Regions from separate parts of the Homo sapiens genome. Here regions 2, 3 and 4 are each linked to region 1. Evidence: fine-mapped expression QTL. A gene starts in region 1. Each other region holds a variant in brackets. All regions are shown on one strand. Distances are from middle to middle.

Region 1 (8,108 bases):
TCTCCTCCCTCTTCAGATGTTTGAAATCCTTTATGTAAAAGCCTAATTTAAACTTTATAGTAATAGATAATATTTTTAAATGTAATGAGATTTAAATATATCAGTCCCAAAATGTTTATTAAAAGCAAATGTTTTTCTTCATGTTTGAAAAGTAAAAAATATTAATACAAAGTTGGTTCTTATACCTTAAGTCTTCTATTAACTTATCTCCATGTTTCTCCTTTACTTAATTTCCCAATTTTTGCATGAGCTGGTACAAAAAACATTACCCACTTCCCACAAATGATGGTACCATTAAATCGTATTCTGACTTATGGTGTCAGTGGAATTCTATTTTGATAGCCTGCTTCTTATAAGATTAGAAGGGGATAATTATATTACCTGTCATTCAAGTTAAGGCATCACACAGTTATCAGTTTGCATTTATTTTCTTTGAATTAATACAATTAAAATATATGTAATTCTTATTTCAGTTTGACTACACCTATCATGACACCTAATCCAAAGACAAAAATTAAATAGTTTGTTAGTATACATGAGGATAAAACCATGGCAATATGACAGGGTGTGGTTCTAACAAGTACTTCCTGTACATAAAATAAAGACCAGTTCTATATCTGGTCTTTAATCCAAGTCAAACTTTTCCTTAGTTTATTTTTGTAGTCTTTTAACTGTTAAGTGGTATGAATTCTTTTGGCTTATGCATTACATAAGCGCCATCCATAAAACTTGTTCTGGTATGTATCAAGGACCGTACAAATAATCATTGTTGGATCTAGAAATTTCACCCCTAAAAATATATCCTAAGGAAATAATTCCAAATGTAGGGAAAGCTATATTCAAAAATCTTTTCATTGTATTACTTAAAATAGTAAAAACTCGAAACAAGCTAAATAGTAAGATGAGAGTGATTGAGTAAATTATAGTAAACTAGCTGATAGAACTTTTTTATAGCAATTGAAAATGAAAGATTGTATATAAAAAGCAAGGAAGATGATTGTCATGATTTTTATTTAAATAATTTTTACTATAAAAAGTTTATATTCCATTTAAGAAAACAGGAAAATAAAGAGAATAGAAAAAAGAAAAATAATTATAATATTCGGGAAGAAAAGCAGACTACTCAGTTGTATCTGTAATACGATTATAATTTTTGTTAAATAATAGAGCAAGAATACTTGAAAGTTGTTTTACAGAGTTTTATTCTTTTCTTATCAGATATATGTAGCATAATTTGTAATATAGTCTTATTTATATTATTATTTATAATATACAAATAATATAGCATAATTTCTTATACGTTTATATTTAAAACTCAGAAACCCTCATTTGGAGCATTCTCCCATTCTTGCTGCCCAAATGAACAGGTAAAGAGTGCAAATTAAAAGATTGTTCCAGCTGGGCATTGTGGCTCATGCCTGTAATCCCAGCACTTTGGGAGGCTGAGGCAAGTGGATCACGAGGTCAAGAGTTCAATACCAGCCTAGCCAACATGGTAAAACCCCGTCTCTACTAAAAATACAAAAATTAGCTGGGCGTGGTGGTGCATGCCTGTAATCCCAGCTACTCGGCAGGCTGAGGCAGGAGAATCGCTTGAACCCGGTAGGTGGAGGTTGCAGTGAGCAGAGATCACGCCACTGCACTCCAACCTGAGCAAAAGAGCAATACTTCATCTCAAAAAAAAAAAAAAAAAAAAGGTTGCTCCACAGTCTTGCGTGGTAGGTACCAGTATTCCGACTTTACAGGTGAGAAACAGGCTGAGAGTTGAGCTAACTTATCCAAGGTCTCAAAGCTGGTACTAGCAGAACAGAGATTGACAATCACATCTTACTAGCTTTTGAATGCCTGAACTCTTTTTTCCCTTCCTGGTATCATCATGGTGAGAATCAAATGAGGCAAACATAGAAATGTATTCTGGAAATGGGGGTATTGCCCCTCCCTGGGGTTTCAGGATCACCCACTTTTCCCATGCCGTCCCACAAAGGACAGAGATCATAATTGTAAAGCTTTGTGAAAAAATAAACAAGATACTGGTAATATCCTGTTACAATTTTCTTTTTGAAAATGTCTCAGCCAGGCACAGTGGTTCACGCCTGTAATCCCAGCATTTTGGGAGGCTGAGGCAGGAGGATCATTTGAGGCCAGGAGTTTGAGACCAGCCTAGGCAACATAACGAGACTCCATCTCCACTTTTTTTTTTTTAATGTCTCAAATCTTCTGTTGTAGGGAAATTCTGATCTATGAGAGGCTGCTTGAAATAAATGGGCTACTGGCCAAGGCTTGGAAATGTTTGTGGTATGAGAAGGTCAGTTGTTATTTGGCATCGACAGATACATTATTATTGCTATTTAGAAACAATTAGTTTCTAAATATTTGAAACAATTAGTTTCAAATTATTGAAAAGGCAGTAAATGTAAAATTATTCCTTTGGAAAGACCCTATTTATAGAAAATTGTGCCTCAGGTATACATTTTGCTTACCATTAGATCTATTTCAATTCCAAAGGAATATATGGAGGGAGAGGGAGTATTTGTAGCTTCTAAAAATGTTCATGGAGGGGTGGCTTATTCTCTTTGCCCTTAGTTTAATAGAAGCAAGAGGTAGTTTGGAGTAGCAGGAAGTCAGAGATGGGTTCATTGTATCGTTATTTCTAGTCCTAGCTCTTCACTGTCCTTGGCAAGGTTCTTAACCTCTCTGGGTTCCCCTCTTCTTACCTTTCTCCTATTCTTCCCCAAGTGTGGGAGTCACACTTCAACACTATACACCCGGGAGTGTTGTGTTGTTAAAAAGTATTGTTAAATACTTTTTAAACGTGTTGAATACTTGTTAAATACTTTTTAAATGTGTATTTATTTATTTGAGTTAGTACTACATACACATGGTTCAACATGTAAAAGACATAAAGGGAAATTCAGTGCCATCTCCCTCCCACCTGCTCCTTTCTGCGTGTCCCTGTTCCAGTTCTCAGTTTTCTTTTTCAAACTCAGAAATCCCAAGAGTCTGTGAAGGGCAAATGAAAAGCAAAATGACTAGACTAAATCTGAATGAAAGGGATTTATTCTAAGGTGATACTGCTCACTGCTCAAGGTGCTTATCTGCCCCCTTCATGGGCTCCCTCAAGTTTTCTGAGACTTCAAACAGCAACACTCAACTAAACTATAAAATAGTCACAGCACCTTTTCGAGAAATTTTGACTTTGAACTTGCTAATATGCAAAGGAAATAGTCCAACCATTTCTCTAGAACTTGGTTGATAAGAAATTTTATTTTGTCCCATTTATAATTTTATTCTAAAAATTTGTTTTTTTCTGCTATCGAGTAGGAGAGAAGGGAATAAGGGAAAGATTTGTTTTTGCACTACTGTGAGATTTTTATACCTTAGGCCAGGACAAAGCACACAAGAAATAAAATATTAACAAAATGTCCTTAATTTTCCTTTCTGACCAAAATTGCTTGCCTCTGCATTTATATATAAAGAAGGGATGTGTTGAGCAAATGAAGGAGGACAGCTAGGCAGACAAGATTTGCCCAGCGCCTGGCATACAATAGGGGCACAGGTCATTGCTTAACAAAACGTATAATTTATTAATACATGCTCGAAGCACTGCTATACTAACCAAATATTCCCTGCAAAATTTTAAATTTACAGTGCAAAATAAGAATAATTTAAAAACTGTTTCTAGAAAAAGAGCTTTAAGGGCTTCCCCCCCCATAACAATTTAAGATTAACCTAGAACATGGTAGTTATTTTGCAAGAACTGGGGAGCACCACTCTCTTCTCCTTGTGCATGTCTGACATTGGAGGCCTATTGTGCACGAAGTTGTGATCAAAATCCAAGTCAATTCATTTTGAAAAGTAACATGACTACAACATCCATCCACTCCAATGAGCAAAGGGTGTAGGCTTTGAGTATACACAGCAGGCCACACACTATGGGTCATGGCATACAGTCTAGCGTTGGAGGTTGCTGCATTTGTTCATGTATCTATGAGTTAGGTTTTAAGTTTTTTCCCCCTGTTCTATTAATATAATTAATTAGTTAATTAACCCCACTCATTCATTTACTCAGTCCACAGCCTTTTGTTAAGAGCCCGCCTAGGACATAAAGATGAAGATCCAGTGCCTACCCTCATGAAACATAGAATCCGAGCGAAGAAGGCTTACTTTGCAATAGTCATCCAAGTGGTGCTTTTATGGCGCTTTACTGCTCCCGCCAACACCCAGTGCCTGGGTATGACCTCAGGCGGTGGCAGAGCCCGCGTGCGAGGTCCCGCTCTCCCTGGCTTGCCCCGGCAGGGCGGAGTCAGCCTAGCAGCCGCCGGCGCTGCCCCCGCGCGGCCTTTAATTTTGCAGCTCCGACCACCGGAAATTAGTCGAAGGCTGAGCGGACCCGGTCGAGAGCCGGCGAGCTCCGCGCAGGGAGGGTGCGCCCACCGGTCCCGCCGGGCGCCCGCGGGACGCGCCGCCAGGGCCCTCTCCGCCGGGGGCTCGGCGCTCGCCCACCTCTTCCAAATTTAACCATTACCTAAATCCGAAGGGAAATGAGCAAACCTCTCGGATTGGGTGTCAAGGTATTTTCAGCCTCGTTGGGCGTATTTATCCCCAAGTGTTTCCACAACAAGCTATTTCGGGGCCTGCGGGGCAGGTTTCGCTCTGCGGACGCCGTGGCCACTCGCCGGGCTCCAGGCCGGCGGCACCGCGGGCCGGTGATTCACGGTCCCGACCCGGGGGTGGTGCAGCCCTAGGAGGCGGCGGGGTCGGGGGTGGGGGGGGCGGGTGACCGAGGCCTGAGGGGCGGGGAGGGTCCTCGGAGCGGGGCGCCCCCCACCCCTCTCTCGCCAGTCAATCTGTGTCCTCAATCTGTGGCTTCTCTCGCTGCGGAAGTCTCCCTGGAGCCAAGAATAGTTCATTTTCTTTCAAGTCATTTCTAGTGCCTAAGTGTCCGGACCTCCAATTTCCCCCATCCCCTGCCGACCCACAGGGAGAGAACTGGGAGGACTACTAAGGGGCGCGCGGGACGGGCTGGAAAGGCCAGGCCCCCCACCGCCTGGCCACTTGCGCAAAGGAGCGCGCCCGGCCGCCCGACGGGGGTTGGGAGCAGGTCTGGGAGGGCTATGCGAGCGACTCAGTAACGCTCAGGAAGTGAAGCTTGTGGTTTTGGGGGCTGAGCTCGGAAGGAGAATTTTTTTTTTTTTTAAGTCAGAGAGATAGAGCGGTCTCTCCCGAAAGCAAGATTCCGTTTGAAAACTCTCCTAGCGCGGTGCCCGCGCCGTGACTCCGCAGGTAGGTCCGCCGAGCCTGTTCTGCGCCTCCTGCCCTGGTGGGGGCGGCCGCGGGGACTCGCAGAGCACTGGCACTGCGGGGGCGATCAGAGGGCGCGGGCGGTTTCCCACCTGCTGCGGACCGCCGTGCGGGAGCCCAGAGAGCTCCGGCAGCTGGGTTAGGGCGCGACCCGCGCAGTGTGACTGGAAATCTGGAGCTGGGGGCGCGCAGCAGGCGGTCTGGTGGTTCGGCAGGGGAGCCAAATCCACCAGGGAAGGAAACATCTGGTGGGGAGGCGGCGGCAGCTGCGCTCGGGAGGACGCCCCCTTAGCGCCCTCGGCTCCCTCCTTCCTGGGCCCGGACGGTGAGGAGAGGCCTGAGCGCGCGGAGGGGCCGCCCCACCTCCCGCGCCAGCTGCAGCGCGGGGTTGCCTTCCCACGCGCTCGGCCCAGGCCCCGGGGCCCCTATCTCCTCCAAACTCTGTCGCTCCCCACAGGAACCAGCAAAGCGGGCCGGGGTGCGAGAGAGGCGTGGGCTTACAGCCCGGGTGGGGAGGCGGCCTCCGCGTCCGCCTGGTCTCTGGTGGCGCCAGCCCAGACCCAGCTCCGGCGCTGACAGTTACCCCGCCCCCATCTGTCCCGCTCCCAGCCAACGTGGGTCCAAGCTGCAGCGGGACCCTCGGGACAACGCCACTCCGTTTTTCTTTTCTTCCGAGTTTCGTGGCTGTTTAAAGAATTGGGTTTGGGGTTTGTGGCGTCTAATTGTACGGACGAGAAGTGCAGGAAGCGACAAAGCTCTAGCCCTAGGAGCCACCCCGGAGGGAGGCGGATGGCACTCTCACCCCTAGGGGCATTCTGGCGCTTGGGTAGCGGGAAACTTCGCGGGAGCCCCGCGACACGTCCCAGGCGTCTTTTCTCCCAGGTCTATTCCCATTCCTCCGGAGAAGGGGACACAATGGGGCTGGGGATCTGGAGCAGGGGGCCTGCACCCTACAGGGACCAAGGCCTGTAGGACTCGTTTGAGCTGAGAGCGCCAACGGACAGACGTAGACTGTGTGGCCTGCATCTTGCCTAGGAAGCCGAGGGGCTCCTAGTCCGGCAGTGGAAACAGCGCGAAGCCGGAGGACTGCAGGTCCTGCCCCGGCCCAGAGTTCCCAGCACCCTCGTTTCTGAACCAGCCGAGGCCACGGAGAACTGCTGTACTGCAGCTCACGTGTGAACCCGGTCACCATCGCCTTCACCCCGGGAGGAAGGCAGATTCGTTTACTCCAGACCACCTCGACTGTGGGGTACCGCCCCCGGAGCCGGCTGGAGCCTAGCGGCAGGCGCAGCCACGCCCTCCCGCTGCGCTCAGATTTCGACCTGGTATTAGGTGAACTGATTGGGGGTTAATGAGAGCGACGCCCCGGGCAGCTAGTTCCCTCCCGGGCCCGGGCCCGACCCCCGCTCTCTGCTAATGCAGCCTGCGCGCTCTGGCGTCCTGTCTTTTTTGTCTGCTAAATTGTCGGTGCACTACCGACTCGGGACACCTAGCATTTCCCAGTCAACGTTCGTGGATCGGGCTCCACCTCCCTAGGACAAGATTTTTTGGTGAGCAGAACGGAAAGTGCTTTTTTCCCGGGACCTGATTCCCGAGGTTAGGTCTCCATGGTCTGGGATGGCTCGCCGCAGCCTCGACCGGTGCCCGCCGCAGCCGGGAGTCCAAGGGCAAAGTTTCTCCTACGTGGGGCACTAGTGAGGGGCGAGTGGGATCACCCAGATGCGAGTTTCTCCTGGGGCGGGGGTTGGTCGTCTGTTGTTCCCCTCACTTTCCTGTCCCTTTGCTCTCCCACCTCCTTTCTCTGGCCTCTGCTGTCCCCAATCCCTCTGCTGCTGTCCTCCCGCCGCCCCACAGTTTTATCTTGTGTTCTGTTCCCCCCTCCCCCCGGTCCTTTCACTCCAGTTGGTAGCTGGCTCTTGGAGGTCTTGGCTCCTTGCCCCTTCCGGGTCCTCGACCACTGGGCATCCCCGGCCCCTAAACCGATCCGCGTGTCCCCGCCCTCCCTCGCCAGCCGTAAAGCACAGCCAGGCAGGCGATGAGTAGCTGAGTTGGGGTAACCCACCCGATGGGAACTACAGCTCTCCAGGGAGTTTGATTGCCGGAGCGAGCTTCGCTAGGAAAGGGGAGGAGCTGGGGGGCGTGGGCAGGGAGGAGGAAAGGGGCCTGAGACAGGGCCCCGGGACAGGTTTTACCGCTGAGCTGTGTCAGTGGCGGCGGCGGCAACGACGGCGGGTTCGCGCCACCTGTCCAAGTGCCACCTGGTAAGCGCGGCGCAGCAGGGTCAAGCCCCTCCTCCCGTGGGCCCTCTGCGCGCCTCCCTGGCCCGCGCTCTCCCTCCGCCTGGGTGCCCAGTCCGCCGCACCGGAGAGTACTGACCCACGTCTCCACCTGGTTTTCTTTCCCTCTCAGGTCTCCTCCGGGCTGGGGCTGAGCAAGCCCTCGGAGTGACCGTGGGTGACAGCGGCTCCAGGGACTCTTGGGGCGCAGTGGGGAAAGTGCCGGACCACCATGCCGCGCTCATTTCTCGTCAAAAGCAAGAAGGCTCACAGCTACCACCAGCCGCGCTCCCCAGGACCAGACTATTCCCTCCGTTTAGAGAATGTACCGGCGCCTAGCCGAGCAGGTGCGAGGCGCGCGCGGGCCAGGCGGGGCTGCTCCCCCGGATGCCTACTGCACCTCGGCACACCATTAGTCCGGAGCTGGGAGGGGCTGCCCCAACGTCCCTTTTGCTGCTGTTTTTGTTTCCTACTGTCCTGGTTCCTCCGGGTTTGTCTCCTAGGTGCCATGGCCTCTCTGCGCCTGCCCTC
Region 2 (8,108 bases), 160 kb after region 1:
AAGGAACTGTGAGTCAGCTTGCTTTCTCAGCTGGGAGGCCTGTAGCCTGGGGCAAGTTCTCAGCCCTGCTCATCAGCTGCCTGGAAATAAACTTGGTGCTGTTGTGGGGGCACGGTGGGAGTGAGTCTGGCCTTTTAGGCTGCAGGCTGTGTGGAAGCTGGGTGAGGCCTGTGGTTGCCAGCTTTCCCCCACTTCCCTAGTGACCTGTGTGATGCAGCAGAGTCAGCCATAATCCACCTGGGAACATAACTCCATTGGCCTGGGAATCACACAATGGTACCCCCACCTGATGGTCTTTCTCTACTGGCCCTGGTAGCCGAAGACAAAGGACTTAATCTCTTGGGAGCTCTATGGCCCTACCCACTGCCTGACCCCAGAGCAAGCTTGTATCCTCCCTATCCTACTGCAGCTGATGCACTCTTGAAAGCACCACCTCCTGGCTGAAGGCCAACCAACACAAAACCAGCGCACTTAAAAAAAATACAATTAAGGACCCTCACAGAGTCCACTTCACTCCCCTGTACCTCCACTGGAGCAGGTGCTGGTATCCACAGCTGAAGACGGATCACATCACAGGACCCTTTGCAGACACTCCCTAGTACCCGCCAGAAGCCTGGTAGCTCTGCTGGGTGGCTAGATCCACAAGAACAATAACAATCACTGCAGTTTGGCTCTCAGGAAGCCCCATCCCTAGGGGAAGGAGGAGAGCACCAAATCAAGGGAGCACCCTGTGGGACAAAAGAATCTAAACAGCAGCCCTTGAGTCCCAGATCTTCCTTCTCACAGTCTACCCAAATGAGAAGGAACCAGAAAAACAATTCTAGTAATATGACAAAACAAGGATCTTTAACAACCCAAAACATCATACTAGCTCACCAGCAATGGATCCAAACCAAGACAAAATCTCAGAATTGCCAGAAAAAGGATTCAGAAGGTCAATTATTAAGCTAATCAAGGAGGCACCAGAGAAAGGTGAGGCCCAACTTAAAGAAATCAAACAAATCATACAGGATATGAATGGAAAAATCTCCAGTGAAATAGATAGCATAAATAAAAAACTATCACAACTTTGGGAAATGAAGGACATACTTAGAGAAATGCAAATGCACTGGAAAGTCTCAGCAATAAAATTGAGCAAGTAGAAGAACTTCAGAGCTTCAAGACAAGGCTTTTGAATTAACCCAGTCCAACAAAGAAAAAAGAATTTAAAAAATGAACAAAGGCTCCAAGAAGTTTGGGATTATGTCAAACAAACAAACCTAAGAATAATTGGTGTTCCTGAGAAAGAAGAGAAATCTAAAAGTTTGGAAAACATATTTGAGGGAATAATCAAGGAAAACTTCTCCAGCCTTGCTAGAGACCTACACATCCAAATACAAGAAGCTCAAAGAACACCTGGGAAACTCATCATAAAAAGATCATTGCCCCGGCACATAGTCATCAGGTTATCGAAAGTCAAGATGAAGGAAAGAATCTTAAGAGCAGTGAGGCAAAAGCATCAGATAACTTATAAAGGAAAGCCTATCAGATTAACAGCAGATTTCTCAGCAGAAACCCTATAAGCTAGAAGACATTGGAGTCCTATCTTTAGCCTCCTTAAACAAAACAACTGTCAGCCAAGAATTTTGTATCCAGCGAAACTAAGGTTCATAAATGAAGGAAAGATAGTCTTTTTCAGACAAACAAATTCTGAGAGAATTCACCACTACCAAGTCAGCACTACAAGAACTGCTAAAGGAGCGATAAATCTTGAAACAAATCCTGGAAATAATACCAAAATAGAATCTCTTTAAAGCATAAATCTCACAGGACCTATAAAACAATAAGACAATGAAAAAAAAAAAGCTGTTCAGGCAACAAATAGCACGATGAATAGAATAGTACCTCACATCTCAATACTAACATTGAATGTAAATGGCCTAAATGCTCCACTTAAAAAATACAGAATGGCAAAATTAATACGAATTCACCAACCAAGTATCTGCTTTTCAAGGGACTCACCTGACACATAAGGATTCACATAAACTTAAGGTAAAGGGTGGAAAAACATATTCCATGCAAATGGACACCAAAAGTGAGAAGTAGCTATTCTTATATCAGACAAAACAAACTTTAAAGCAACAGCAGTTTAAAAAGACAAAGAGGGACATTATACAATGATAAAAGGACTAGTCCAATAGGAAAATATGACAATCCTAAATAAATATGCATCTAAACCTGGAGCTCCCAAATTTATAAAACAGTTACTACGAGACCTAGGAAATGAGATAGAAAGCAACACAATAATAGTGGGGGACTTCAGTACTCCACTGACAGCACTAGACAGGTCATCAAGACCTGTTCCTGAATGATCACTAGGTCAACAATGAAATCTAAGTAGAAATTAAAAAATTCCACTGTGGTCTGAGAGAATATTTGATATAATTTTGATTATACCCTAGAACAAATGGATTTAACAGATATTTACAGAACATTCTACCCAACAACAGCAGGATATACATTCTATTCATCAGCACATGGAACAGTCTCCGAGATAGACCATATGATAGGCCAGCTGAACTTTGTAACAATTCCAAATGAACAGGAAGTCTCCTGGCCAGAACTCAAGGGAGGGTGTGAATCTGGTGTGCAGACTCCACAGGCTGGGAGATGTGAAAGCCCTACTTGTTCTCACAGGTGAGAGGCTGGTAGCCTGGGGCAAGTTCTCAGCCCTTCCTGCCCACTGCCTGTAAACAAACTTGGTGCTGTTTGAAGGGACATGGTGGGAGTGAAACTGGTCTTTTGGGTTGCATGGGAGCTGGGTGAGGCCTGCCACCAGCTTTCCCCCACTTCCCTGACAACCTGCATGACACAGCAGAGGCAGCCATAATCTTCCTGGAATAGCTCCACTGACCTGGGAACCACACTCCCATCCCCCACAACAGCCACAGCAAGCCCTGCCCAAGGAGTCTTGAGTTCAGACGCACATAGCCCTGCCCCCATGACGGTCCTTCCCTACCCACTCCGGTAGCTGAAGACAAAGGGCATATATTCTTGGGAGTTCTACGGCCCTACCCACAGCCTGATCCTCCCTATACTACCACAACTGATGCTCTCTTGAAAGTGCCACCTTCTGGCAGGAGGCTAACCAGCACAAAAATAGTACATTAAACAACCAAAAGCAAGGATCCTCACAGAATCCATTTCACCCCCCTGCCATCTCCACCAGAGCAGGTGCTGGTATCCATGGCTGAGAGATCTGCAGACCTGACCTAAGAGATTATCCAAGTGGTCAATAAGCAAATAAAATAGTGCTGAATTTATTCATCATCACAGTAATGTATTATAATCATAAACCAATACTACCAGAATGGCTAAAACTAACTATATCAAGTACCAGGGAGGACATGGAATCAAGGAAACTCCCATATAGTAGTAGTGGAACTGTAAACCGGTACAACCACTTTGGAAAACTGTTTGGCATTATCTAGTATAGTTGCATATATGCATATACGATAACCCACCATTCCCAGTCCTAGATACTTCAGAAATACATACGCATATTAGCAGAGAGATAAATACGAGAAAGTTCCTAAGAATATTGTTCATAATAGCCCCAAATTGGAAATAGTCTAAATGTCCATTAGCATAAATAAATGGTATATTTATATAATGGAATACTATACAGCAATAAAAGAATGAACTACAGCTATATGCAACAACACAAATGACTCAAAAGTATAATATTGCATGAAATAAACTGGACACCAAGAATATATACTGGAAAAAAAATGACAGAACTAATCTGTGCTAATATAATATTAATTTTGGAAAGAGGTGCTGATTAGGAGGGGATATATATGGGGCTTCTAGTTTACTTGTAATGACCTATTTCTTGGCTTGGGTAGTGATTACATCAGGACATTCATATGTGAATACTCAAGAAATCATATAATTACTATTTGTGTTGTACTTCAATGGAAATGTTTTAACATGTTATGTAACATTTTTGGAAAATGTTATAAATTTTTAAAAGTCAAATTTCAGGGATTATTTTTTCCTTTTTAAGGCTAAAAAGGACAAAATGATAAAATAAGTGATGTTCTATGGTAGGTTTATGCAGCTCAGTGACAGAGATCAATGTTTCTCCTAGCTTAATATAAGTTTTGGATGATGTCTAATAAGATACTTGAAATGATTTGAAGTAGGGTGCTGGGCCAAGCAACACTCTATAGAAATATATTTCTAAATTTTTTACTACATTTCTACTTCTACCCTCTTTCCAAATCTCCAATGTGCTTTTAAATTTAGAGCCACATTTACTTAGGAATATTTGAGAACAAAGTTTTGTGGTAAAAACAAGGTTATTACCCATTCCTCTTCAT[G/A]TTAAATGACTTCATTTTCCAGGGAGTATACATCAATCAAAGATGGGTAGTAGAAATACTAAAAGATGCTCTCTAAATCTCAGTGGCACATTTTCAATCTCTACATATGGGTACTATTTACTGAGTACCAATTATATGTCATGTACTGTGATAAATGCTTTATACACATTATCTTTAAAACAAATAACAATTGAGCAAGAGAAGCTATTAATAGTTCCATTTACAGATGAGCAAACAGACCAAGAAACTAATTTTTCATACAGCTAGTAAATGACACAACAGATGTTCAAATCTAGGTCTATCTGAATGTGCTTTCCATTCTCTTTGTCCATTATTTCCCAATAAGTCTCTTTTACAAACTATTTTGATCTGTAATGTTTTCAATGGACATGCTTGCTAAATATTTTCCAATGTAACTACCAAGTCTATTCCATGGCATATACTTCCATTAAACACACACACACAGACCCCATGTAAAAATCTGAAAGAATACCGAAGAAGAAAAAGCAAGCCTCTTCAGAGGCTTCATTTATTGTATGAAGAATTAGGGAAAACTTTGTCCCACCATTTTAGGCTATTTTTACATTAGAAAAAAATATTGCACACTGATGAAAATTTGCTAGGGGTAAACGTCAACTTATTTGTAAAATAGTAATGCCAACAGTGGAGATGGCACTGTAAACCAAAAGGCAGAATGACTAAAGAAACTATTTGAAAATTTAACAATTAACTCTTCAATATCCTTCCTGCTCCAAGATTTGCTGTGGTGAGTTTTCCAAATGTTAACGATCTGGAAAAACTCAATGTCTGTAAGACATACCTCTTCTGAGTCTTGTGATTTGGTGGTTTCTTCACCCAAAACATACCGTCCTCTGTAAAACTCCCTGATCCTCAGATTTAACTTTTCAGTTTCTTTTTTCAAATTCTCGTAACTTGGCAGTGGTTTAATGGCTGTACCTGAGCCCCTAAAAGGTAAAGACTCATCCAAGCTGTTCTGAGATTCCCTCCAGGCAGGGAAATGACTATCTGGATCTGAGATTATGTCATCTTCATCAAGTTCTTCTTTAACCAGAGAGGCTTCGGGTTTCAGACACACAGAAGCATAATTCTGGCCATACAAAAACCTCAATGTTTCTTCTGTCTTCCACTCAATCAAAGTCTCCTTCAAAACTTTAAGTAAGTTTCTCTTTCCAACTTCAGGACACACCTGCACTGAACTAGACACTGACCTAGACACTTGGTTTGATTTGGCAAATTTTCTCTTAAAATGCTCTGCACTTTTCTTACTTATGCCTACTAGAGTTATTTCTGACCTACTGTATTCACTTTCAGAATTTTCTGACGCTTTTAATCTTTCAGGCAAAGTGCTATTTGAAGAACTCTGAGTATTTACTTTCTGTAAAGGAAGTTCACATGTAGCATCTTTCTCCTGACTATCTAATTTGCAATCGCCTAACTGCTCAGTGACATCTACTACTGTCTGTTCTTTGTCTTTGTGTTTGGAGTTAGCTTTGTGACCAGCTTTCTTTTTCATTATGCTTTTTTGGTGCAGCTGTGGTCTAATATTTGTTGAATTTGGTCTGTTTCCTGGTAGAATGGAGGAAACAAAGTCTTGCTCATTGTCACTGCTACTATCACTGTGAGTGCTAGAAGAACTAGATTCATATTGCTTTTCAAAGTGGCTAGGATTGTCGATATCTGATGTTTTAATGGCTTTACTGCATAACTGTACTTCTTCTCCAGAATGGCCACTGTAGAATGAAAGAGAAATAAAATAACTAAATAAAAAATAGCAAATAAAACCCGAAAACAATAGAAAAGTAAAGTACCCCATAGTATTTATACATTGTAACTTTCAAGGTAGAAATTTTTATTCCCCAGACAAAACCTTATTTCTAGGTTCTGATATATAAATTTCAGAAGAAGCCTATAATTTCAGTACATCTGTTAATAATATATTTTTTGATATAGTTCTCCTTCTGTATTCTTCCTTCATCTTTTTCCCCCAATTATTTTAAAATTGTTACAGGAGTACAGCAAAACTTTTTAAAAAACTTGATAATGCTATCCTACTGCACTATTTGGATTTGCCTGTTGTTGCAAATATATATATATATATAAATATATATATAAAGTATATATATAAATATAAAGATATATAAATATATAAAAATATAAAGTATATATTTATATGTACACATATTTACATATATAATATATACTTGTACATATATAATGTATATTATATATAATATATAAAGTATATATGTAGTTTAAAAAATATATAATATGAAAAATAATATAAAAATAAATATATATTTTTAAGACAAAGTCTGTGTTGCCCAGGCTGGAGTGCAATGGTGTGAACTCAGCTCACTGCAACCTCTGCCCCCTAGGTTCAAGCGATTCTCCCACCTCGGCCTCCCAAGTAGCTGGGATTACACGTGGGCACCACCACGCCTGGCTAATTTTTGTATTTTTTTAGTAGAGATGGAGTTTTGCCATGTTGGCCAGGCTGGTCACAAATTCTTGGCCTCAAGTGATTTGCCCACCTTGGCCTCCCAAAGTGCTGGAATTACAGGGGTGAGCCACCGTGCCCGGCTGAGCTTTTTATTTTTTATTTTTTGTATTTTATTTTATTTTTATTCATTTGAGATGGAGTCTTGCTCTGTCACCCAGGCTGGAGCGCAGTGGCAAGATCTCGGTTCACTGCAACCTCTGCTTCCCAGGTTCAAGTGATTCTCCTGCCTCAGCCTCCCAAGTAGCTGGGATTACAGGTGCACACCACCATGCCCAGCTAATTTTTGTATTTTAGTAGAGATGGGGTTTCATCATGTTGGCCAGGCTGGTCTCAAACTCCCGACCTCAAGTGATCCACCTGTCTTGGCCTCCCAAACTGCTGGGATTACTGGCTGACCTTTTTAAAAAAAGTTTTTCTTTTGAAAACTTTGGCTGAGTGTGGTGACTCACATCTGTAATCCCAGCACCTTGGGAGGCCAAGGCAGGTGGGTCACCTGAGGTCAGGAGTTCAAGACCAGCCTGGCCAACATAGTGAAACCCTGTCTCTACTAAAAATACAAAAATTAGCCAGGAGTGGTGGCGCATGCCTGTAGTCCCAGTTACTCAGGAGGCTGAGGCAGGAGAACTGCTTGAACCCAGGTGGCAGAGGTTGCAGTGAGCCGAGATCGCGCCACTGCATTCTAGCCTGGGTGATAGAGTGAGACTCTGTCTTGAAAAAAAAAAAAAAAAAAGAAAGAAAATTTCATTATCGGTTTCTTAAATAAAAAAAAAAATTACAGGAATTGTGTTTAGATTTGAAAAGATAAAATGATAAAAATAAATGGGTAAACATTTTCTAATTCTGGTTGATTGTTGTACAGAAAATTCTACAGAATGAAAATCACAGGAAAGTCATAGCAGAACAAGTTAGCAAATCAACATTTTTCAATAAAAGATATTTAAATTTGAAAATCCAGAGTTACAACAATATGCTAACAATAAAAGACAAAAGTTTTCCCTGACAATGTTCTTCAATTTTCAGATTAGATTTGAATAAGATGAAGAATTACGAAAAAGGGAAGGCAACAGTAGCTTTGCCAATACAAACTTGAAACAAACAAGGATGCTCTAAAGCACAGACACTATCAAAACTTTAAAAGATCAGGATGAAAAAGACTCTGGGTCAAGAAGCAAGCTGTGGGGAAATGTAAAGAAAAAAATATATATATATATAAAAGTTGAAAG
Region 3 (8,108 bases), 26 kb after region 1:
ATAGTGCCGGCACCCCTTCCTGGGTGTGTGTGTGCGAACACTAATGTGGCCATGACATTTCCCCCTTATTTCCTCTCCTTCTGATTCTCATGCTGTGAAAAGCCATGACCCCTAGGGCTCCTCCCCTAAGATGTTGGAGTACCATCTGAGAGGGACAGAGACTATATACATCCTGGGCCCAGATTAGCCTGGAAGAGGGCTTCACAAAAGACTGGCTTGTGTCAGAGTCATTCTGTTCACAAATTGCCTTCCTTTCTGCATTTTCTGATGATTTGTGATTTATTTACTTGTTTTCTTGTTTATTATCTGACTTCCCATGAGTCAGAGATCATGTCTATCTTATTTACTACTGCATCTCTAGGGCCTATAAAGCAAGTATTTTTTTAAATGAATAAATATTACTTAAATGTTGTTAAATTTAGCCTAAGTTCAGTGCAATAGGATTTTGGCTGGGGAGGTGGGAGTACATTTAAATTCATACATATATTTATGTACTCAGTAATTTTTTTTTCTTTTTTTTTTTTTGAGACAGAGTCTCGCTCTGTCGCGCAGGCTAGAGTGCAGTGGCGCCATCTTGGCTCACTGCAACCTCCGCCTCCAAGGTTCAAGCAATTCTCCTGCCTCAGCCTCCTGAGTAGCTGGGATTACAGGCGCCCGCCACCATGCCTGGCTGATTTTTGTATTTTTAGTAGAGGTTTCACCATGTTGGCCAGACTGGTCTCGAACCCCTGACCTCAGGTGATACGCCCACCTCGGCCTCCCAAAGTGCTGGGATTACAGGTGTGAGCCACTGCGCCTGGCTAGTAATGTTTTTCTCTTACAAGGTAGACACTAGAAATTTCAGAATAATATGAGAAACAGGCCAATAATAGACTATATTATCCTAAGCTTGGGGCCCAGAAAGGTTAAAACTAAGAATGCAATCGCTGTTTCTCCAAGCCAGGAAGCAACTGCCATCAGCGTTCAGTTGGGTTGCACTTTCTCCATTTATCTTAGAGATATGCCATACTGTACTTACATTAGATGATGATCAGTTTCAGAGTATGAACAGCCATTTCTAACTGGAGAGTGTAGCTGTCTCTTTTTAGTCCAGCGGAGTCTAAGAGTTACTCCATATGTGTCTATCAAATAAAGAAAATCTGGATTCCTGAAACTTGTCCCTGAAAAAAAGGGCATAACTGATCTTTCCTTAATTTATGCTTTCAGTTTCACTGTGATCATCGTCCCTTTGAAAAGTCTGGTTTCCTTTGCTCACAACCTCACCTTAAATATTAAACCCAATTTGTAAGGTAAATCTGCAGGAAAAATATATATACCATATCATCTATGTCAAGAGTCTGGTGCAGAGTGGGCACTCAATAAATAACCCGCTGTCATGACTATTTTTATCATTATTGATATCTTCTAATATGAATAACTACCACCACTTATTAAGACTTTGCTCTATGTTAAGAAATGAACTAAATGCTCTGCATACATTTTCTCATTTAATCCTAGCAATATTCCTCTGAAACAAAGTATCTATCATTATTATCACCATTTTATAGGCGAGTAAACTAAGGCACAGAAAAGTTAACCATCTTTCCAAGGTCACATAGTGAATATGTGACACAGCTGGTATTAAACCCCAGGCAGTCTGGTTTTCAAGGCTGATCTCAGATTATTTGTACTATTTCTTTGGGGTCAGCTCACGTCACTGGTTGATTTTATTTCTCAATTAGATCATGACAAAATTTTATTCTGGAAACCCTGATAATCTTATTATTCTTATCCTTATTAAATCACATACATTCAATTAAGTCTATCCTGGTGTATTTTTTTCTCTTAAAAATTCACAAGGATATTTAAGAAATTAGCCACTCATTGCTGACGGCAGCAATTTACAGACCACCTCTCCCAAGCCCAGGACTATTCCATTGCCTGGTGCCCTTTGCTGCCATAGCCCAAGTTGTTTCCATCTGCCTGATGGAGACCAGGCTTCTCTATGTCCCTGAATAAGTACAATTGTATGAGGCACCTGATCCAGCAACTTACTAGTGTCCAGGGGCAAAGCTGTATTCTTTGTTAACTAACTTATTGATTCTAAAATCAGAAGTGCAAATATGTTTTCTGGCAGCATTTGGAAAGTGGGATTACACATTTCATTTTTGATTGCAGATAGAACTCCCTGCAGATATCGATGATTCTTTTTTATTGTAACTTGACCACCTATTTCAAATCCACTTAGAAATTTTTATTATGTTGCCCGAGCACAGTGGCTCATGCCTGTAATCCCAGCACTTTGGGAGGCTGAGGCGAACAGATCACTTGAAGTTAGGAGTTCGAGACCAGCCTGGCCAACATGGTGAAACCCCGTCTCTACTAAAAATACAAAGCCAGGCATGGTGGCACATGCCTGTAATCCCAGCTACTTGGGAGGCTGAGGCAGGAGAATTGTTTGAACCTGGGAGGTTGAGTTTGCAGTGAGCTGAGACTGTGCCATTGCACTCCAGCCTGGGTGACAGAGCGAGACTCCGTCTCAAAAAAAAAAAAAAAAAAAAAGAATTTTATCAATACAGTTGATTCTACCTGTATACTCCTGCCCTGGCCCATTCCCCAGCCTCACTTTTTATTACTTCTTTTATTTCTGTACTTTTTTTTTTTTCAATAAGAGTGGAAAGACCTGAAATGTTTTGTGACTTAAAAAAAATAGTTCTAGTTCTCTCCACAAATTTTGAAATAATAAGCATGATTGCCATGGCAGACAACCCTACCCACCTAAACCTTTGCTTCCCGTACACTTAAATATAGGCTACAATTATTACTTCTCTATTTAGAGATTATTGTGGTTTCAGTTTTCATTGTGTCCTTGTGGGGTTTGCCTCTTTGGGTTGCCATTATAAATGTCTCTTTTATTCCCCCATGTGGTCACTTTCTTAAATACCTTGTTTAGCACATCTTAAATGGAGTGTGGTTTGACTGTGGTATCTGCCAACCTTAGGGATATTCTACTACTTTTGTTCCCTTCCAATTATAGAAAACATGTGATAATAATTTCGCTTTTGTGAACTGTCGGGGAAGGGAAGAGATCATACATATCTTAAACACCTATTATGTGTCAAGCGTTTTGCCAATATTTTCCCAATTTAACATTCCTGTTAGATGATTGTCATTACATCTGTATTATGCATGAGAAAACTGAAACTCAGAGAGGTACTAAATGGTGAAGACAAGATTTGAATCAGGTCTTCTGGGCATGTGATCGTGAAAAGGCATGAGATGTGTGGACAAGTTCAGCCTCATGAGGATCAGGCAGTCTCTTTCCTAGATATCTGGTTCTTCTGCTTTTCTCCCTACCCCTAATCTACTCCTAACTGAAATAAGGGGTTTCAAGTGGAAATGCTAATACTTATCCTATTCACTTCACAGGAGGTGTTATGGGATTTGGTGAGGCAATACTTTAAATTTCAGAGAACAGATACTATAGTCGTCAAAGGCATTATTTATGCTATTTTCTGATAGGCAGTGAGTTGACATTTTCTTCTGTATTACTATTGTTTGTGGAGGCTGGCAAAGCTGAACACCTCTAATTCAGACATCATCCCAAACCTCAGGCCACCCTGTTCTCTCATTTTCATTTACCAAATCTGCTTACACAGACTCCAACTTGTGTATTTTCCCCTCTCCTACTCCTTTAAGTCCTCTCACCAACAGGAGACAAAGACAGCACTCTGGGGATGAAGGCCCAGAAACTAGACTCCTAGCACACAAACTTAATAATAAGCTCATGAAACTTTTAATAGTATTTAAAATAGTATTAAAATTTGTATCAATAAATATAAAAATAGATTAATTCATCAGAGAGTTCCAAGGTGTACCCAGCAAGGAAATAACTTTTAAATATAGAGTGATAGGGTCAAGCACAGTGACTCATGCTTGTTATCACAGCACTGTGGGAGGCTGAGGCAGGAGGATTGCTTGAGCCTAGGAGTTGGAGGTTATAGTGAGCTATGATTGCACCACTGCACTCCAGCCTGGGCAACAGAGGGAGACCCTGTCTATAAGTCAAGAAATAAATACAGAATGATGGTTACAACTTTGGGAGCATTTCACAAATGGAAAAACTTGTGTATAATAAGTGGCTCTAGGGCCGGGCACAGTAATTCCAGCACTTTGGGGGGCCAAGGTGGGTGGATCACTTGAGGTCAGGAGTTTGAGACCAGCCTGGCCAACACTGCGAAACCCCATCTCTACTAAAAATACAAAAAAAAAAAAATTAGGTGGGCGTGGTGGCACATACTTGTAAGCCCAGCTACTTGGGACTGAGGCAGGAGGATCACTCAAACCCAGGAGGTGGAGGTTGCAGTGAGCTGAGATGGTGCCACTGTACTCTAGCCTGGGTGACAGCAAGACTCCATCTCAACAACAACAACAAAAAAAAGTTGGGGGGGGCACCTAACAATGTCCATTCCTGACTTATTTATTTGGTCAAAGGATGTGAATATTTTTAAATGATTATTCTTCTCCAGCTTCTCCCTTTGCCTCTGCTATTAGGTTGGTTTCCTTCAACAGCCTGACGATTGGTCATGGCAAAGAGAAACTGTGCGTGTTAGCATTCTGAGAGTGGTTTGGAGATTTACTCCCACTAAGTTGATAAACTTCCTCCTTCTTAACGGTTTTCTAGACTCTAATCCTAATCATTGCCTTCTTTCCAAATTCTCCACGAGTGTTGCTCAGGAAGCA[C/G]AAGTAGCTGTAAACCACAGAGGCTGGTTCTTACCAACTGTTGGATTCAACCTGTAGCAAACTGGACAGAGCACAGCCTGTCCTTTCAAGAGCCCAGAGCAACTCCTAAGTGAAGAAAGAGAACTCAACTTGTATTGTGTAAATTTTACCCAGAACAGTCTCAGGAAGTATCACAGCTTCCTGATTGCAAACCTAGATAAAGTCTAAGGCCACAGCTGCTAAGGACAAAAGCCACCAACCCCCCAAAATGAAGAAAATGACATCCAAAGTCTGTATTTGAGAGAAAGTCCTATTAGATACGTGAGGGTGTAAAAGACAATTCAGATGAAGGAACTGGTTTTGTGTCTCAAGCAAACAAAGGTCACCTTTGGAAATAATAGAGAACAAGGGAGATCTGAGAGTTCTGACTGCCAGTATCATGAAGTCGGTTTCTGCACGATTATTTCATTATAGATTAAACCTGAATCTGATTAAACCTATCATGGATATGGAGTGAGCTGATGGGAGCCCATGTGTTGGAACTCTGAAGTGGAAAGACTTACCCCATAAAATCTTTTCTCTGCTTACCTTGCTTTCAGTGCCTCCTCTAAAATATGAAAGCCACTGTGTTCCATCAATATTAAGAAAAACATCTCTGTGGCTTAAAAAGTAGATCAGGCCTGGGTGCAGTGGCTCATGCCTGTAATCCCAGCACTTTGGGAGGCCGAGGCAGGCGGATCACCTGAGGTCAGGAGTTCAAGACCAGCCTGGCCAACATGGTGAAACCCCGTCTCTACAAAAATACAAAAAAAAAAAAATTAGCCGGGAATGATGGCAGGTGCCTGTAATCACAGCTACTGGGAGGGTGAGGTGGGAGAATCGCTTGAACCTGGGAGGCGGAGGTTGCAGTGAGCCAAGATCATACCATTGCACTCCAGCCTGGGCAACAGAGTGAGACTTCGTCTCAAAAATAAATAAATAAATAAATAAATAAAAAGAAAAGTAGATCAAGATTGATTGCAAAGAGCAGAATTCAAATTCCTTTGCTGACTAGTTGCATGCCTTTGGACAATTTAATCCTAGTTGCTTTATCTGTTGGGAATACATGGGAAGAATAATTCCTACTTGTAGGGTTATTGTGAGGATTGCAGATACCTGCAAGATGCCAGGCCCAGAGGAAACAACCAACATATAATAGTTATTATCCTATTATTCTTAATCAATGACTTTGAAATGTAACAGGGCTGGCCAGGAGCAGTGCCTCACACCTGTAATCCTAGCATTTTGGGAGGCCAAGGCGGGTGGATCACCTGAGGTCAGGAGTTCGAGACCAGCCTGGCCAACATGGTGAAACCCTGTCTTCTACTAAAAATACAAGAATTAGCTGGGCGTAGTGGCGCATGCCTGTAATCCCAGCTACTCGGGAGGCTGAGGAAGGAGAATCGCTTGAACCCAGGAGGTGGAGGTTGCAGTGAGGCGAGATGGAGCCACTGCACCTCAACCTGGGTGACACAGTGAAACTCTGTCTCAAAAAAAAGAAAAAAGAAAAAGAAGTGTAACAGGGCTGGAAACTCCCATTTCTGGCAGTATCATAGATTAGATATCCTGAATAACTCTGTAGATTAAAACAACCAAAATTCTGGGTAAACTATTCTTACATAATTATAAATAAATCACTGATCTGTCACCAAAATAAGGAATTTGTTGATTTCAGAAACAGTAGTGAAAGTAGGAAATCTGGTCGGGGAAGCAGGGTTTTTTCAAATTCTGGAGAGTCCTTCCTTCTTTGAGGCTGCATGAAGCTGTATGAAGAAGGCACAGAATCAGGAGTTAAAGCTTAGGGCTGACTAAGGTGGAGAATCTTAGGAAACTCACCCCTCTATACCCTCAGTGTAAGGATGAATAGGAAGTCACTCTGCACAGAAGGAGATAATGAAGAAATGCCTATTTCCACCTTGGCGCTGGTGGAGGGGTTGGAAATCTTCCCTAACAGTTCGTAAAGCAAGTTGGCCTTCGTGTGTGTTTGTGAGAATTCAGTCTAAAATTTTAAACTAACTATAGTTCAACTATAGTCCCAGATTGGTAGCACCTGGGGCAATTGATAGAAACAAAAACAAATTTCTCTGGAAGGATTTAACTGTAATCCAGACCTTAAAGAATTCCTACAGGTTAAGTTCCAAGGAGAACAGGCAGCTTATATTTTTTTTTTTAAAAAATCACAAGACGTATAATGATGTAAGCAAGACACCATAAATGAGAATCAATATAAACAAATTTCAGCAAATATAGACTCACAAATATTTCAGATGTTGGAAAACAGATATGAAATAATCTATTATGTTTAAAGAGAAAAAATAAGTGCTTAAAAATATGAGCAGAGAATAATGACAATAAAGAATGGCCACAGAGGGCCAGGCATGGTGGCTCACACCTGTAATCCCAGCACTTTGGGAGGCCGAGGTGGGCAGATCACCTGAGGTCAGGAGTTCAAGACCAGGCTGGCCAACATGGTGAAACCCTGTCTCCACTAATAATACAAAAAAAATTAACCAGGTGTGGTGGTAGGCACCTGTAATCCCAGCTACTCAGGAGGCTGAGGCAGGAGAATTGCTTGAACCTAGGAGGCGGAGGTTGCAGTGAGCCAAGATTGTCCTATTGCACTCCAGCCTGGGTGACAAGACCAAGACTCCATCTCGGGGAAAAAAAAAAAAAGACCAAGCAGATTTGAAAGTAAATATAACTTCTAGAAATAAAACCAGTACAGATGGGACAAATAGAAAATAATTGGAGAGGTCAGGCACGGTGGCTCACACCTGTAATCCTAGCACTTTGGGAGGCCGAGGAGGGCGTATCACTTGAGGCCAGGAGTTTGAGACCAGCCTGGCCAACATGGAGAAATCCCATCTCTACTAAAAATACAAAAATTAGCCAGGCATGGTGGTGCACTCCTGTAATCCCAGCTACTCAGGAGGCTGAGGCAGGAGAATCACTTGAACCCGGGAGCTGGAGGTTGCACTGAGCCGAGATCGTGCCACTGCACTCCAGCCTGCGTGTCACAGCAACACTCTGTCTCAAAAAAAAAAAAAAGAAAGAAAGAAAGAAAAGAAAAAGAAAAGAAATGGTGAAATGTTACAACTCAAACCAAACCATATCAATAATCCCCATTATATATAAATGCAAATGACGTAACCGGTGCTGTCCAATACAGTAGCCACTAGCCACATTTGGCTATTGAACACTTGAAATGTGGCTGGTGTGACTGATTTTAAAATTGTGTTTAATTTTAATTAATTTAAATTTAAATAGGAATATATGGCTAGTTGCTACACATATTGTATTGGACATGACAATTCCAAACACCCCAATTCAAAGTCAGAGATTATCTGAGTAGATAAAAAAGCAAGATC
Region 4 (8,108 bases), 510 kb before region 1:
TAAAATAGGCACCTGTGGCTTGTGACTGGCCTTGACAGCCTAGAGTCCTCCAGTTCGCCTATGCAAAGATCTCATTCCAGGCAGAGGATCTAGAAGTCACCAGGCTAAACTTGCTAATATCCTTGTACTTACCCCGACCCTTCCAGAGTGTCTGAGACTTGCACCTTCTTCCTTCCACAGCAATCCCAAAGCTTCTCCCAACCCCCATCCCTGGGACAGAAGAAATGACTAAGTAAAAAACACAAGACTTTAGCAAGCTCCTGATACAGCAGAGCCAAGAAATTATGCAAAATCTGAGTTTATCTATAATTACCTCAGAGAAGGTCATGGCTTTTGTTTGTCACAGGCTTCCCTTCCACCTGGTCTGGTTTTAATCCACAACATAATTCTCTAAGCAGCGAGCCTAACCTCCCAGAATACCACAGGGCTAAGGAAGGAGTCAAAACGCTCCACATGGATGGCAGAAGACACATTTGCTCAATTTGAGCCTGTGCACTAGGACAGGCTTAAAACTAAATCCTGGGTTTGAGCACCACTCACCAAAGTATTTTGCTTTGGCATGGTACTGGAGATTAAAGGTAGGAAAGATTACATGGTCACATCAGAAACAAAGTTTACTTTCCTGCCTATGCAGCAGTGGCTTGTTTGCCCAGTAATCTTACTTCCTTATTAAGCAATATTATGGTGGGGCAGGGAGAGGGCCGGAGACATTCTAGGAGACGGGAGCACAGCAGTAGACTGTTGAGAAGGGAGAGGCTATACCCACTCCCTCGCCTCTTATGCCTTTCCTCTAAACACATCTTCTCCATTCCTCAAGCAAAAGTAAGGTCCTCTCTCCTTTATGTGACCTCCCAGTCATGTCAACCCATTCCTCAATTTGATCATTCACTTAGTCACTCAAATGATTATTGAGTGCCCGCTATGCACTGTCTTATGATAGTTCCCTCCATGAATGCCTATGGCACTTACTCCTCATTGTGCTTGGTTATATCAATCAATCAGTCAGTATGCATTTCTCCATAACTGTGATGGTTACTGTGCTCATACTATGAGGTCTACGAAATTGCTCCTGTGAATCTACTTGGGAAGACATGATATGTCCACTTATCATTGAAAAATAAATGATAAATGCCAAACAAATGATGCAGACAGAAAGTGATATGGTTCAGGAAGAGGTTACTGTGGGCTAATGTGGCCAGTAAAGGAAGACTTTCTGGAGATGCTGTGGCGTTAGTAGTGATCAGATAAATGGAGAAGGGCATATAAAAAACAGTGTAAGAAAAGGCACAAAGACCTGCATTAAAAAGGCATGTTAGGAAACTGAGATATGACAAAACTGGCTTAGCTGCTCACCAGCTGAGAGCAACCCTAAATGCTACAATGCCAGCCTGAACACAATGTCCTGGTGAAAAGAAGCCAGATCCCCTTTTGCATTCCTTCTTACTGGGTCTCATAGCTTTTCCATCCTTCTATTCTACAGAGGGCACCCTGAGTCCCGGTTAGAAGCCAAGGTCCTGCTTTCCCACCTCATTCATGCCATCCCATTTCCCAGGAGCTGGGCCCTGATTCTTTCTGGGGACCTAAATTTTGAGTAGATTACCTTGAATAGCATCTCTGCATAGAATTTGGGGGGATGAGATACATGTTAAGACCAGTGAATCCAATAGACATATGAATAGCTTTATTCTCAAACTTCCAACCTGAGGTGATCCATCCACCTCGGCCTCTCAAAGTGTTGGGATTACAGGTGTGAGCCACCGCGCCCAGCAGCTTCACACCTTTTACTATAAAATAAGCTCCTTAATCAGAAACGATGTTTTATGGTATACCATGATGGTGAATGAAGCAGTAAGTAAATCTATAGATCATATTTCTCTCAGATGTATGGCGGGTAAGAAAGGCAGATTACCCAGAATGAATTTCTATTCCAATAAGAATAAATGACCAAATTGCTCTTCCTTAGTCAAAGAAGAGGACAATGTAATCAATCTGCCACCAGGTGGCAGTCTTTTCTTGCTGAGTATAGCAGTGAATTGAGGGCTCAAGGTCAGGCTGGCATTCAAGCAATGGCAGTAGCTAGATTAGCTTTGCTGAGGTGAGGCCCATATTAAGTCCATAAATAATTGTGCAAGTACAGAAGTGTTTGGGGAAAAAATATGAGAGTCATAAAATGGGTAATCTTGTCCACTGGTTATTCAGAACGTCTCAACCGCAAAGGCTATTTGACTGTCATTCACATGAGACACAAATATTCTTACACTCTGGGATCATTCCGAGATATTCATTCACATACATTTCCCCTAAATCTCCAGCTACCAATCCCTTGGTGTTCTGTTCTTTCTTCCAAGTTTTTGAACATGTGACCTTACACTTAGCCCCTGCCCTTGAAAGTGCATAGATCTGCATCTCAGTCCACCTTTTTCAGCAAATGGACCATGACATGCAGTGATCAAAGTTATGCTCAGTGGGAGGATTTACATTCTTTATTGTCTTTCAGACATCTAAGTTGGACAGCTGTTGTGGTTCAATTTTGACTGGTAACACCACACCATGGAGAGTCATCTGTTATCCAGGCTTGAATCCCTTCTTCCTTTCTCAACTGATCACAGGGAACTTCCCGTTAGGATACAGTTGTGGGCTGAGTGTGAAAAGCATAGGCATACTGTGAGTGAGGGTCACCTGCTTAACTAATTAGAGTCTTCAGAAGCTGCTTAAACCTGAGCTTATGTATGCCAATTCTGCTTAATGATGAACTGCTCTGGGCTTTCCAAATTTATGGTTTGGTGTCTCAGACAAGTCCCAGTTAAAATGGGCAACTCACTTCATATGAGGTATCCCGTGGTCAGGTAGAGGTGGCTGGATGCCTTGGTAAGATATGTGGATTCCAGAATTGGTCAATACACTCCATGAAGTTTCAGGGCCCAGCTACTTCAGTGTGGTTTTTAGGAGTCCAGTGGTGAGAGACTTGCTGGAATAACCTCTCCAAAGTAAAAGACAAGTTGTGGCGTCTTCCACCTTAACCCAAAGAAGAAAGCACAGAGCCTGGAAGTCTCTTTAGATTCTGATGCAACATATCCCATACTTAGGAATATTGCACCTGCCCATATACTGGGTGACATGGAAGGCTGACAGCTTTGAGGGGGCTTGAAGAAACAAAGGGCACTCCATCAGGTCCAGACTGTGGTATAAGCAGACCCCTACTCAGGTCACATGATCCAGCAGGCCCTATGGTGTTGGAGGTATCAGTGGTGGCAAAAGATGCAGTGAGGGGCTTATGGAGAACTCCAGTGAGAGAATCACAAGGCTGACCCCTGGGATTCTGGAGAAAGGTCATGCCACCCACAGCAGAAAATTACATACCCTTTGAAAAACAGTTCTTGTCAAGTTGTTGTCTTGTCGAGTTGCAGAAGGCAAGTTACTCTGGTAGAGGCAGAATGTTTGACTATTGAACATCAAATGACCCATGCATTCAGAACTTATTCCCATTGTAATCAGGGTTCTGTCCATAACATCAAGTTAAAAAGTTAGATGGGCCCAGTAGCAATCCATCGGTTGATGAAAATGGTATATCCAGATATATCCAGAATCAAGTCCAAGTAGGACCGGAAGGTACAAGCCAGCTCTATGGGCAAATAGCTCAGGCCCTCGTGTCACCTATTACAGTTGCACTAGTTCCTCTCCCATGGCTTATACCAATGGCCTTGTGAAAGGTCTCTTATGATGAGTTAAAGTGGAAGGAAAAGCCCAAGATTCGTTTATAGATAGGTCGTCTCAAGTGCATACTAAAAATGAGTGGTGACTGCATTATCGCCACATTCAGAGGTGTTCCTTAAT[G/A]ACAGTGGAAAGGAAAAATCTTCCCCAAGGACAGAGCTGGGAATCTGCTTTGGTGGAAGGAAAAATGGCCTACATATAAATTCCTGGGTTGTGGCCAATGGCTTGGCTGTCTGGTTAAAGGCCTGGAATGCAGAGGACTGGAAGACCAGAGACAAAGGAAATCTGGGTAGAGGAAGTGGATGGACATGTGAGAGTAGGCACAAAGTATGAAGACTGTTGTATCACATGTCTACCAGAAAGTATCCACCAGACATTTAACAACCAAGCAGACACAATGGCTCTGCCAATTGATATTAGTCAGACTGCATCACTGGCAATCCCAGAGCTGAGATAATGGGCACATGAGTGGGGTGACCATATGGCAGAGGTGGAGACCACATATGAGCCCAACAGCATGGACTCAGAGCAAAGCCAATCTAGTTATCTCTGAATGTTCAACTTGTCGGCAACAGAGACCATCACTAAGTCTTCAACATATTATTTCTCAAGGAAAACATCCTGGATATTAGAACTCTCCTATTCTGAAAGGGTTAGTGGTTCACTTTCACAAGGATAATGCCTATTCCAGGTATGGGTTTGCCTTTCCTACCCACAGAGCCTCAGCCAGGACTGCTATCTAGGGGCTTATAGAATGCTTGATCCACAGGCATGGAATCCCACACAGCATAACATCTGGCCAAGTGACCTGCTTTGAAGCAGAGGTACAGGAATGGACCCATGACCATGGGTTCCATTGGTCATATTACATGCCACACCATCCAGATGCAGCCAGGCTCACAGAATGCCAAAATGGCCTTCTAAAGGGGCAACTGAAATACTGACTTTATGGGTGGGTCAGTCTGTCTATATTCATTTATTTATTTGTCAGAGTAACATGATAAAAATGCTAGCGTGATTATTTCTTTTTTAAAATTTATTTTTCTTTTTATAGAGATGAAGTCTCACTATGTTTCCCAGGCTGGTCTTGAACTCCTGGGCTCAAGTGATCTTCCACTTTGGCACCACACTCAGCCTCTTTTTATTTTTATTTATTTATTTGTAGAGATGGGATTTCACTATGTTGCCCAGGCTGGTTTTAAACTCCTGGACTCAATCTATCCTCTTGCCTTGGCCTCCCAAAGAAAAGTGCTGGGATTATAGGTGTGAGCCACTAAGCCTGGCAACAGCGATTATTTCCATACGGTGAATTTAATTTTCTTCTTTTTGCCTACCTATATTTTCTAAAGTTTCTGAATGCATTAGTGTTAAATTAACAGGGTAAAAATAAAGAAAACTCCTCTTTTCATTACTCTATAAAATAGCTCTCCAATTTCTGAGCCCTGGCATTCTTACCTTTCCTCTCTTGAACTCTCTAAACTCCTTCTGTCTCTCTTATCACCATAAAAAACATCCGGTACTTCTCAGGAAACACAGAACCACTTCCCTGAAACCATTTACCACATAAATCTGCATTGCTGGGGCATTGGTCCCAGATGGTCCCTGGACTCTCTCAACCTGTGAGTACTGTTTTGTCAACAGTGTTCTGAGTGCTTTGTACACAATATGGCAAAGAAATTTACCCTGGTGCCTTCTGAGTTCTAGAAACCTGCTACTATTTATCTCAAATCCTAGAAACTCCTATTTCATTGTGAATCTGTATTATTTATTGCTGCATTACAAATTATCCCAAAATTAGCAGCTTAAAGCAACATTTATTTCACACAGTTTCCAAAGGTCAGAATCCAGGAATACATTAGCAAGGTGCATCTGCTTCCAGGATGGCTCAGTCACATGGCAGCTGACATTACCTGTGATCCTCCTGAGCCATGAAGGCTATCACTTACTCCTTCTCTTAAGCACACGTGGATAAACCCTGGGGCATGATTAGATCAGTGAGGTTTTTTTCTTTTTTAATAGAGACAGAGTTTTGCTATGTTGCCCAGGCTGCTCTTAAACTCCTAGCCTGAGCTATCCTCCCACCTTTCCTTCCCAAAGTGTTGGGATTACAGGTGTGAGCCACCATGCCCAGTTATCCTTGAGTTTTGTTTTGCTTCTGAGATAGGGTCTCATTCTGTCACCCAGCCTGGAGTGAGTGCAGTGGCAAGAACACAGCTCACTATAACCTCAAAGGATCCTCGCACCTCAGACTTCTGAGTAGCTGGGACTACAGGTGCACACCACCTCACTCTGTTAATTTTTAAATTTTTTGTAGAGACGGGGTCTCACCATGTTACCCAGGCTGGTCTCCAGCTCCTGAACTCAAGTGATCCTGCTGCCTCACTCTCCCAAACTGTTGGGATTACAGGCGTGAGTCACCGCATCTTGTGAGCTTTTTTTTTTTTAATATTTTCTTCCCTTAGATTGCCAGTCATGCTTTTACTGCTAAAAATGCTAGCAGTGATTATTTCTTTTTAAAAAATGTGTTGAGCTCTAAGCTCACAAAGTACAAAATGCTATAATTCGAATGTTTTGTCCTCTCCAAAATTCATATTGAAACTTAATCCCCAATGCAACAATATTAGGAGGCGTGGCCTATAAAAGGTGATTGAGTCATGACAGCTTCACCCTCATGAATAAGATTGGGTGCCCTTATAAAGGGCTTGATGGAGAAAGTTTGCCTCTTTTTGCCCCTTCTATCCCTTCCTCTATGTGAGGACACAGTGTTTCTCCTCTCCAGAGGATGCCTCAACAAATCACTGTCTTGGGAGGGAAGACCGGGCCCTCATCAGACACCGAACCTGCTGGGATCTTGGACTTCCTAGTCTCCAGACTGTGAGAAATAAACTTCTGTTGTTTATAAGTTACCTAGTCTCAGGTGTTTTGTTTTAGCAACACTAATGGATTAAGACATAAAGTAAGGGCATAGAATATAAAAAGGATAGGTGTTTCACTCAGAAAGAACTATCCATTTTTTTCCAATTTTGCTCAAATGAACAAATGAAAACCAGGTCAGGTACAGTGGCTCATGCCAGAAATCCTAGCACTCTGAGGCCAAGACAGGAGGATCACTTGAGCCCAGGAGTTCAAAACCACAGTGAGCAATAATCGTGTCACTGCACTCCAGCCTAGGCAACATAGCAAGGCCCTGTCTCTAGCAGATTTGGAATCTGTAGGCCTAACAAATATGAAAAGAAAGATCTGGGCTCAGTGATCAAAAATAGTTTGATGAAGACATGATTATGAACTTAATCCTATTTCATTTCCAGGCACGATGGGATTTGGGAACTAGATTTACTCTTCTGCCAGCAACAACAAAAACAAGCAAAATTCTTTTGAAACTTAAGAAACTAATTTAAGAACAAGGCACAGTGGTGTGCTCCTATAGTCCTAGCTACTCAGGAGGCTGAGGCAGGAGGATTGCTTGAGCCCAGTTCGAGGCCAGCCTGGGCAACATAGTGAGTCTCTGTCTCTAAAAAAAAAAAAAAAAAAAAATTAAGAAACTGGAAGAAGAAGAGCAAATTCAACTAAGGGTGAGCAGAAGAAAAGAAATAATAAATATGAGATACAAATAAATAAAAAAGAAAAGGCAAAAACAGTAGGAAAAAATTAATGAAACCAAAAGCTGGTTCTTTGAGAAGATAATAAAAGTGATAAATCTCTAGCCAGACTTGTCAGGAAAAAAGAAAGAATATATGAATTATCAATATCAAGAATGTGAGTGGTAACATCACTAAAGTTTCTATAGTTATTAAAATAATAATATGGAAATATTATAAGAAACTTTTTACATATCAATTTAACAGCATAGATGAAATGGATAAATTTTTTGAGTGACAGAAACTATTAAAATTCACTCAAGAAGAAATAAGTAACCTGAATAGCCTTATATCTATTAAAGAATTGAATTTGTTTTAAAAAATCTTCCCACAAAGAAAAGTCCAAGTTGCTTAACTGGTAAATTCTAAATAATGTAGAAGGAAGAAACAATATCAATTCTATACAAATTTTACCAGAAAATTGAAAAGTAGAGAATTTTCCCCCAAATAATTCTATAAGGCCAGTATTATCCTGATACCAAAAACCAGACAAAGACATTATAAGAAAACTATAGACAAATATCCCTCATAAATATGGTTGCAAAAATTCTAAAAATATTTTTAGCAAATTAAATGCAATAATATATAAAAAGGACAGTACATCATAGCCAAATACAGTTTAACCCAGGAATGCAAAATTGGTTTAACATTTGAAAATCAATGTAATTTATCACATTAACAAGCTGAAAAAGAAAAAGCATATGATCATCTCAATAGATGCAGGAAAATCATTCAACAAAATCCAGCATCCATTGATGA

Direction of the effects. Alleles are on the strand shown, and positions count from the first base shown. SD is a standard deviation of normalised expression in the study named. Not every link is listed here.
For the expression in sun-exposed skin of the gene that starts at base 4,372 in region 1, G is the low allele of the variant in region 4 and A is the other (moderate effect, 0.50 SD a copy in GTEx).

What was found. PIP is the estimated chance that this variant, and not a neighbour inherited with it, causes the effect.
Region 2: its variant is the best candidate, but not a certain one, in a credible set for the expression of GFI1 in whole blood (TOPMed, PIP 0.64).
Region 3: its variant is the best candidate, but not a certain one, in a credible set for the expression of GFI1 in whole blood (INTERVAL, PIP 0.86).
Region 4: its variant is the best candidate, but not a certain one, in a credible set for the expression of GFI1 in sun-exposed skin (GTEx, PIP 0.57).

Annotation. Positions count from the first base shown.
Region 1 is chr1:92,483,189-92,491,296 of GRCh38, reverse strand. GFI1 (growth factor independent 1 transcriptional repressor) reads left to right here and starts at 4,372. Exons shown (of 7, transcript NM_005263.5): 1 at 4,372-4,571; 2 at 7,711-7,924. The coding sequence starts at 7,810. RefSeq lists enhancers at 4,166-4,215, 5,116-5,265, 5,188-5,788, 6,389-6,989, 7,590-8,108 and silencers at 4,336-4,545, 4,636-4,745, 5,366-5,415, 5,616-5,795, 7,576-7,705.
Region 2 is chr1:92,321,452-92,329,559 of GRCh38, reverse strand. RPAP2 (RNA polymerase II associated protein 2) reads right to left here. Exons shown (of 13, transcript NM_024813.3): 8 at 5,185-6,115. It also overlaps a transcript of GLMN not described here. Among named protein-coding and RNA genes, the nearest start is that of RPAP2, 26 kb to the right of the region's middle. The variant G/A (reference allele first, on the strand shown) is at 4,365.
Region 3 is chr1:92,456,712-92,464,819 of GRCh38, reverse strand. No RefSeq gene overlaps it. Among named protein-coding and RNA genes, the nearest start is that of GFI1, 26 kb to the left of the region's middle. The variant C/G (reference allele first, on the strand shown) is at 4,723.
Region 4 is chr1:92,988,197-92,996,304 of GRCh38, reverse strand. No RefSeq gene overlaps it. Among named protein-coding and RNA genes, the nearest start is that of DIPK1A, 31 kb to the right of the region's middle. The variant G/A (reference allele first, on the strand shown) is at 3,835.